2 separate regions of the Homo sapiens genome follow, and region 2 is linked to region 1. A link means that fine-mapping ties the variant in region 1 to the plasma level of a protein whose gene starts in the linked region. Region 1 holds a variant in brackets. A gene starts in the other region. All regions are shown on their reverse strands.

Region 1 (4,397 bases):
AACTCTGGGGTCCCTTCCCACCTGAGGTGCTCCAGTTTGACCTTTCTGTTCAGTATTTGTCCTCTCCCCATCAGCAGTGTAGGGAAAAGCAAGGGTAGAGCCCGTGGCTGTGGTTGCGGGTTTGGGCTGAGAGGATGGGGGCTGCCTTGCTGTGACAACTTTGGAAACAATATTGAGCTCTGGAAGGTAACACAGTCCATAAATAGCAACGAGATCAACCTGGCTAACACTATTTTGGAAGCTGAGAAAATAAATGACAGCAAACTGCCAGGCAAACAGTTCTTCCATAAAACATGAAGAAATGCTTCCCTAAAAGTATCGCTTTTAAACATAAAACAAAAAGCAAATAGTGGCATCAAAATATAAGGAAAGGTGACCCACCTGTGATCTCACTCTGTTTTCTTTGCCCGCTCTTTCCTTTCAGCTTTTGTTCAAATGCATGCAGCATCTTACGTAGTTTTGGAGATCATAAACAACATTTTGTGTTCTGTATTATGTAACGACTAATTTCCATGCTGCCTTGTCATCTTCTTAACTATCTTTATCAGTATGCCATCCTTCAAATTAAGTATGCTATATTTACTTAGTACATAATTAAGATCTGATTTTAAATTTGAGACTGCGAAGTGAGAAGGAATCTTAGGAAATCACTGAGTCCAAGGAAAATGAACTTAGAGAGGAGAGTGTCTTCCCCCAGGGCCACAAAACTGGTTAATTCTGGACCCGGGACTCCATGTCATTCATTTTTTTTTCAAGTGTATGTTTATAATTACCCACCCGATGCCACATATCAGTGCACAGGTTTCATCTCACTTCATGACTCTTTCCACCACATCGTGTGCCCTAATTAACATTTGTTAGATAGAAGTCATTTCTTGTTTTTCTTAACAGAGGTAAGAGTGCTATTTCAACTCACTGTCATGAAAATAAAGGTTGTGGAGCTGAAATGAATAACAGCAATTTTAAACCAGACTGGTTTCGTGACTGGTAGATAAGTCAGCATGCAAAGACATTTATGTCTCCCAGGTTTGGCTGGCTTTCGCAATGCCCTTTGCAAACTCCACAGGGATTTTAAGCTTTAAGTCTGGTTATAAGCTTATGCAAGCTGTTAGTCACCTTTTTAGATGAAAAGCATCACAGGCTTATGCTCGAAAATGTTGTGTGCTTTGCTAGAATTCCTTTTGAGTAATTCAGCTATAGTATGATTTTGAGGGAGAAATGATGGAACAGATACATTTCAAAACACATTTGCATTTAAAAACAGGAGTTTATCAGCTGAAAGAACTTATCTTGAAAGGTACACATGCAGGGCAAATTTAGAACAAGCAGAACAATTTAGACATGATAGCTATGAATTATCCAAAAGCTTAAAATACTGAGGGCACTTGATCGTGCAGAATCCCAGACATGGGTTGAATCATGAATGTCTGGTGTTTTACTTTGGAAAACATATTGGAAAAGGAAATCTTGTCACTGCCATATTTTCACAGATCTTTCCAAAACATTCTAGGTGTGCATCCACACAATTGTCAACACATGTTTGACCAGAAACAAACAAGTGGAGTGACCTAAGCCTTTGGTACAGCGAAGAAGGCTCTGGAGTCAGGATGCTTGGGTTGGTATCTAGGTTCTGTCACTTACTAGATATGTGAACTTGGCTGGATCTCAGCTTCCTCATCTGCAAAATGAGAAAATCATTTTGAATGGATAGAATTGTTGAATTAAACTAATGACATTAAATCATGTAATGTAGCACCTCTCAAACTCTAACAAGCACACAAGTCACCTGGGATCACATTAAAACGCAGGTTCTTAGTCAGTAGGTCTAGGGAGTAAGCTGACATTCTGTATTTCTAACAAGCTCTGGGTGATGCCTGCTGGTCTCCAGGCCACACTTGGAGTTATGAGGATGCAAAGTGCCTGCTATGTGAGAAACATTCGATAGTGTTAGTTATTGCTATCCTTCAGGTGGATTTCTCCCTCTTTTTCTTTCCTACCACACCCCCAATGCTCTCGCCCACCT[A/G]ATCGTCTTCCTTCTTTCCTTCTGCTTTCAAGAAGGCTTCCAGATCTTTCTGCTCTAGCTACACCTTGACAGGCGCTCATGATTGACTGCACATGAACTTACAGCATGTGTGTGTGAGGGAGACGGTGGAGATGCTGCCGTGGCCATACTCAGATTTGGAAAGGTCAGTTCCACTTCCATCATGCCACACACTATGACTTATACTTGTGAATTAAAAACAACTCAGTCTTTTCTGGGTTAAAATGGCCTTTGTAGCAATTAGTCAATTTGAAGTTCAGACTCCCTGTGGGTGATTTCAGAGGGTCTCCCCTCCCTCTGACATTCCTCAGTGCCTTCAAACAAGAGAAGCTTCTGCATCCTCTCTGCTTCAGGGAGAGGTTCCTGGTGAGAGTGCTGTGTGTCCCAGCTTCCTCTGACCTCCAGCGGGACTCTTTCTGGCCATGGCCTCTGTCCTTGTGCACCTGCTACTGACACATTCATGGTGGGGTCCCCTGGGTGTGCTCTTTTAGCACCTTCCGGGCTTGGTGGCTTCCTTGTTGATGTGATGTCCATCTCTGACCTCAATGGCCTTATAGAACCTCTGGCAATCAACTGTGTCACTTGGCGACTCACAATGGCCACTCAAGCCCAGCCCCTTGCTCTCAACTCTGTATCCCTCACTAGCACATTTGAGAACTCCAGACACTTCCACACCACCTGTGAACAGAGATGTTCTGGACCCCTGCTGTGGCCCTCTTCTCTCACACACACCACCCTGTCATTCTGACCTGCTGTGGCTGCCTTGTGTGGTTGGCGTAGGGCAGCATGAGATGGCCAAACAAGAAGCACTGTGGATCCTCCTTGGTGTTCGTCTTTCCCTTCATCCTACCCCAGATTTCCATCTGTCCTTACTCCCTGCCCTGAGTGAGGCTCGGAGGCAGGGCAGGGAGGTCTCTGGAAGCTCCTTCTTCCCATTTCACCCTCTCCGGTCCTCTTCACTTTCTCTGAAGAAGGGCTGCTACTTACCCTTCTGTCTGCTGGAAATTGCCCTACATTATATCTTTCTTCCTTACCCCATAGTCTCCTTTTTCTAGGGAGATCCAGCTGCCCCTTCCCTGAGGCAATAAGTCTCATGCCCTAACCGTAATGGTGGAAAGGAAAGAATTTTGCTTATCGAGAAGGGAAATTAGATTTAAAATGTTTTAAAAATCTTATCCTAAACTATATATAGCTGCTGCATATACAATACACATGAAAAGTGGGCCTCCTTTGCTCTTTCCTTTTGTCCTTAGCATCACTAATCGATCACATTTCATAGCCTCGGAAACCTCCACATAGTGGTCCAGTCATCCAGTAACAATCGACAGGAGCTCACCTTGGAGATGGAAACTCTTTCTATCACTGGTATGGAGTCAAGCCTGCAGAAGGCAAAGCAAATAAGCTGAATCTACCCCTTATGTCCAAATAGGCAATGGAAGTTTTAAATTTGGGAACTATATAATTGGAAATGGCTTTAATGTTTGAAATAATTACTACATCCCTGCAAAATGGTCATGCAGCCTCTGCTTGCATAACTCTAATGATGGGAAACTCACTACTCCTTGACAGGGGATTATATTTTTAGACTATTCTAAGTAGCAGAAAAACATTTGGTATGTTGCACTGAAACCTGCTCTCTGCAACTTGCTCCTACACATAGCATATTTAATTCCTGTCCACACTGTCAGCCCTGCAGATATTTGAAGGCAGCCACTCTGGGCCCTATTAGCTTCTCCTTTCTAGGTTCAGTCTACCCAGTCCTTTTCAGTGGCCGAGCCTCCAGCCCCATTCACCATTAAGGATCCTCTCAATCCTTTCCCGTTTAATGAGCCGTTAAAAGTCAGGGAGGTAACTTTGACGGAGGAACCACCCACCTCATTTTTTTTAAAACTGGAAATAAATTGCACATAAAGGTGCTGATTGCTCAGAAGTGTAAAAGTGCCTGCCTTCTGCAGACTGACACTGTGTTCTCAGAATCTGTGGGTCATCCTGCTGTGTACATTGCATTTTTTCTCTCCCTACAACGCACACACACACACACACACACACACTCACACACACCCACACCCACCCTAGTGGGAATCATTTCTCAGCTGGCTACTCAAAGCAGCAGCCTGCACATGCTTGCTTTATTGCTTCCTTGTCCAAACTACAGATTTAACAAGGAGGTTGCAGGGGAAAATGTTTTCAGCTTGAATAGTGACATTGAAATCCTTGAGTTTTGAGAGATCTGTGAAAACAGGCTATTGAAAAGAGTTGGGAAAGTCCTGAAAGGGGCTTGCTAATGTTGGTGATACCCCACAATGAAGAGCTCAGAAGCAAAAGTTTTTTTTTGATCTTCTGCTCTCCTGTCTCT
Region 2 (4,397 bases), not on the chromosome of region 1:
TTTTTTCTTGGTGTGAGCATGGGAAAAATGACTGCCAAGCTCTTTATGAGTTGGACTAGAAACTCCACGGGAGGTTTAATATTTTTAATCTAAGAAGGTCAAGAAGTAATTTTTTAACCTCTTGCCAACTCATCTCAGTTTTAACTTTTATTTCAGTGCTTCCTTTTACAAATTGTTACATAATAATGACATCTTTTTGTGAAATATGTGGTATTCCCACCCACCTGGGCATGGAAAGGCCCTAAGAGGTCAGCAAGCAGTTAGAGAAGCTGGTGTTTACCGGAAACTCAGGAGAACCAGCCAACCACAACCCCTGGGTTACCTTGGCAATTGCAGAATAAATGCATTATAGTTACTAAAGTAAAAAATTAGATATGCCTGTTTGCAGATTGAACTATAAAAATACCATTCAAAGACAAATAGATCTAAAAATAAAATGGAAAAACATAAACACTAATTCTGTAAATATTATACTTAATGCACAACTGAAACAAAATTTGCCAGCTTACTCAATATCAAAATCTATGAACAGTTTTTCTATTTTATATAATTTCCCTCTCCTCTCTCTGGATCTCGCTCCCCAGCTCATTTTTTCTTTTTTTTGCTCTGATTCTTTATACACCTCTGTTGCCTCTGTGATAAGCAGCTTCAAAGATGGTTCCTAATGCTTTATTGGATAGAATACAACAAAAGCGATGAGGTGTTGCTTCCCCAATTACATTACGAAGCATCCGTGGCTTCCATCTCCAGTGGGTTCACTTGCTGTCTGGCTCTAAGGGAATCCAGATACCATAATGCGGGCTGCCCTATGGTGAGGTTTGCATCACTAGGAACTCATGTCTCTGGGCAACAACCAATGAGGTCTTGATCCCTGCCGTCAGCCACATGAGGGAGCTTGGAGCTCGGAAGTGAATCCTCCTGGAGTCAAGCCTTGATATAGCTAGCCCTGGCAGCTGCTTGACTGCAGCCTTGTGAAAGAGACCTTGGGCCAGAGGCACCAGCTAAACTGCCCCTGGATTCCTGACCCAGAGAAAGTGGGAGATGATGTATTTTTGCTTTTTGAAGCTGCTGAATTTGGGGATAATTTGTTATATAGCAATAGAAAATGAGTAACTCTTTTGTATTCCTCTTTGTCCTGGCTTCCCCATTTTGAGGAAAATAAAGTAAATCAAAGTGTAGAGCTGAAATATTCACATGAAAATAATAATAAAGTTTTAAAATTATTTGAATGTCTTGTGTTGACATTCCAAAATATATGAATTCCAAAAATTTATATGTTGAAGTCCTAACTGTCAGTATCTTAGAATGTAACTTTTTTGGAAAAGGGGTCATTTCAGATCTAATTAGTTAAGATGAAGTTATACTGGAGTACAGTGGGCACTAAATCGAATTGGTCCTATGATTGAGTCTCAGTCTTTCAGTGAGCCTGTACCCCTGGGTTTATGACCTTCAGTTGGCTTTTTTCTTCTGCCCTTATTTGGCATAAAAACAAAGCAGGTGGATCACCTGAGGTCAGCAATTTGAGACCAGCCTGCCCAACACGGCGAAACCCTATCTCTACTAAAAATACAAAAAATTAGCCTGGCGTGGTGGCGGGCGCCTGTAATCCCAGCTACTTGGGAGGCTGAGGCAGGAGAATCACATGAACCCGAGAGGCGGAGGTTGCAGTGAGCCGAGATTTCGCCACTGCACTCTAGCCTGGGTGACAAGAGTGAAACTCCATCTCAAACAACAACAACAATAAACAAACAACAACGATGACAAAAAAAGCTAGAGCTGGGATTTTCCCTTTCCCTGTGTTAAAGATTAGAGTGGTGTCCTCACAAAAAGGGAAAACTTGGATACAGGCACACACATGGGGAGAATAGCATATGAAGAGACACAGGGAGAAGGCAGCCATCTATGGGTCAAGGAGAGAGGCCTGGAACACATCTTTCCTTCACCGCCCTCAGGAGGAACCAACTCTGCTGACACCTTCATCTGGGACTCCCACCCTCCAGAACTGCAAAGCAATAAATTTTTTATTTTTTACACCACCCAGTTTATTGTATTTTGTTAGGCAGCCCTAGCGAACTAATGTACATAGAGTTCTTGAGTTAATCTTCACAAATTACTGCAATAAGGTAGGGTCTTTTGTTATGTAACAATGCTATGAAATCATAGCGTTTTCTTAATTAACTTCCGTAGTTTAAGGTACTAAGTTCTGGACACCACGTGTCTTCTTTCTATAAATACCAGGACATGCTCTGTTTTTCAGCACTCATTGGACTTCAGCATGACTACTCAGTTGCCAGCTTACGTGGCAATTTTGCTTTTCTATGTCTCAAGAGCCAGCTGCCAGGACACTTTCACTGCAGCTGTTTATGAGCATGCAGCGATATTGCCCAATGCCACCCTAACACCAGTGTCTCGTGAGGAGGCTTTGGCATTAATGAATCGGAATCTGGACATTTTGGAAGGAGCGATCACATCAGCAGCAGATCAGGTACCATCTCTACCATCTCTCCAGTGTACTGGATTCTATGAGAAAGGAGGGGGTCCTAGGAGACAGGGCCACTGTCAGGGTCAGTTACACTTTTAGATGATATATGTATCAGAGTAGCCAAGAACCTTTATTTTACAGTTAGAATTCTACTTTCCTCTCAAAATTAGAGCAAGGACTTCCCTAAAAGTAAGAACAAAGTTAAGAAAAGAACAATTTGCTCATTATCAAGAAGCAGCAGACCTTTGAGGAACTGGCCATAAATTCAACATCTTTGTTCCCCTTTTCTGGTACAGATGGAGGATGGAGGATAAATGGGTCAGGGACTAGGTGCTATTTTCAGAGTATTAGTGGCCTTCATGTACTCATGTGCTATTAAGGCTTTGCAGGTTTTCGAATAAATTTATAATCTGAAAACAAATTTAAGTTTTCAATTCCTTGCCAGCATGCATTATATACTTCACACTTCATTCTAATTACAAGATAAAAGTATATGTAATGCATTGTGAGTCCTTAAGTTTAGTGAAGGTTTCAGTTTGAAGTTAATCATACAGTATAAATTGTGGTTTACACAAATATTATTTTAAAAGCTATTGATCGATTAGGTGTAGACCAGGAATACATGAAGTGTGATAAAAGTCATGGATAAATGTGTATTACATATATCTATAAATATATATTCTTTTGTGTTGTTGAGTTAAGGTCTCACTCTGTCACCCAGGATGGAGTATAGTGGTGTGATCACGTCTCACTGCAGCCTTGACTTCCCGGGCTCAGGTGATTCTCCCACTACAGTCTCCAGAGTAGCTGGGACCACAGATGCATGCCACCGTGCCCAGCTAAGTTTTGTATTTTTTGTAGAGATGGGATTTTGCCATGTTGCCCACGCTGTACTTGAACTCCTGACCTCAGGTGATCCACCTGCCTTGGGCTCCCAAAGTGCTGGGATTACAGGCATGAGCTACCGTGACTGCCCTATATTCTTATATATACTAATATTTAAAAGGTTATCAGGAGTTCTGATGTTCTTTTTCATCCTTAGTCCAACTATTTCCTTGAAGGTCACAGAGCTTTTTAAGGTGACTCTCTAATTGGAAGGTGCCCAGGTTAGCTCAGGCAGTACTTGTAGGCATGGGACAGTTCAAGTAACCAGTTTGTGGCTCCTCTTTTTCTGAGAAGCAGGAATCATGTTTGCAGGGGAAAGCTAGGGCAGAGGAGGAAATAAACAGAATATTTAAGTTATTAATCAGTCTTGACACAGGCACAGTCATCAGCGAAAGTTCAAGGAGAGGCTTGGTTCCAGGATAAGCTAGGTTTATAGTTAACGACTGCCATAGGAAACAACAATGGCAGGATTAGAAAATTAAAATGCTTGACTAAGCCAGGTGCGGTGGCTCATGTCTGTAATTCCAACACTTTGGGAGGCTGAAGCAGGCGGATCACCTGAGGTTGGGAGTTCAAGACCATCCTGACCAATATGGAGAAACCCCATCTCTACTAAAAATACAAAAATTAGCCAGGCGTGGTGGCAGATGCCTGTGATCCTAGCTACTTATGAGGCTGAGGCGGGAGAATCGCTTGAACCCGGGAGGTGGAGATTGTGGTAAGCCGAGATCTAGCCATTGCACTCCAGCCTGGGCAGCAGAGCGAAACTCCATCTGAAAAAAAAAAAAAAGAGAGAAAAAAAAATGCTTGACTAGAAGCCCAAACCTCACCATTATGTAACATATCCATGCAACAAACCTGCATTTGTACCCTTTGAATCTAAAATTAGAAATAAAGAAAAGAAAAGAAAAAGAAAAAGAAGTGACAGTGCACTGAAAAAAAAGGAAATTAAAATGCTTTGGAAAAGAAAATAAATTATAAAAATATAGAAAACAAAATAAGATTTAAGGGGTGTGGGGGAAGCCCAAAT

Direction of the effects. Alleles are on the strand shown, and positions count from the first base shown. The strength of an association depends on the size of the effect and on how common the allele is.
With allele G in place of A in region 1, the plasma level of the protein whose gene starts at base 2,256 in region 2 is higher (weak association).

Evidence for each region. PIP is the posterior inclusion probability: the model's chance that the variant is causal. Protein levels are from antibody-based Olink assays in UK Biobank. Linkage for the fine-mapping came from a reference panel and not from the study's own genotypes, which makes the PIPs less certain.
Region 2: it holds the start of VNN1, and the variant in region 1 is fine-mapped to the plasma level of the VNN1 protein (UK Biobank, PIP 0.97).

Annotation. Positions count from the first base shown.
Region 1 is chr15:58,393,031-58,397,427 of GRCh38, reverse strand. No RefSeq gene overlaps it. Among named protein-coding and RNA genes, the nearest start is that of LIPC, 37 kb to the left of the region's middle. The variant A/G (reference allele first, on the strand shown) is at 2,024.
Region 2 is chr6:132,711,914-132,716,310 of GRCh38, reverse strand. VNN1 (vanin 1) reads left to right here and starts at 2,256. Exons shown (of 7, transcript NM_004666.3): 1 at 2,256-2,485. The coding sequence starts at 2,276.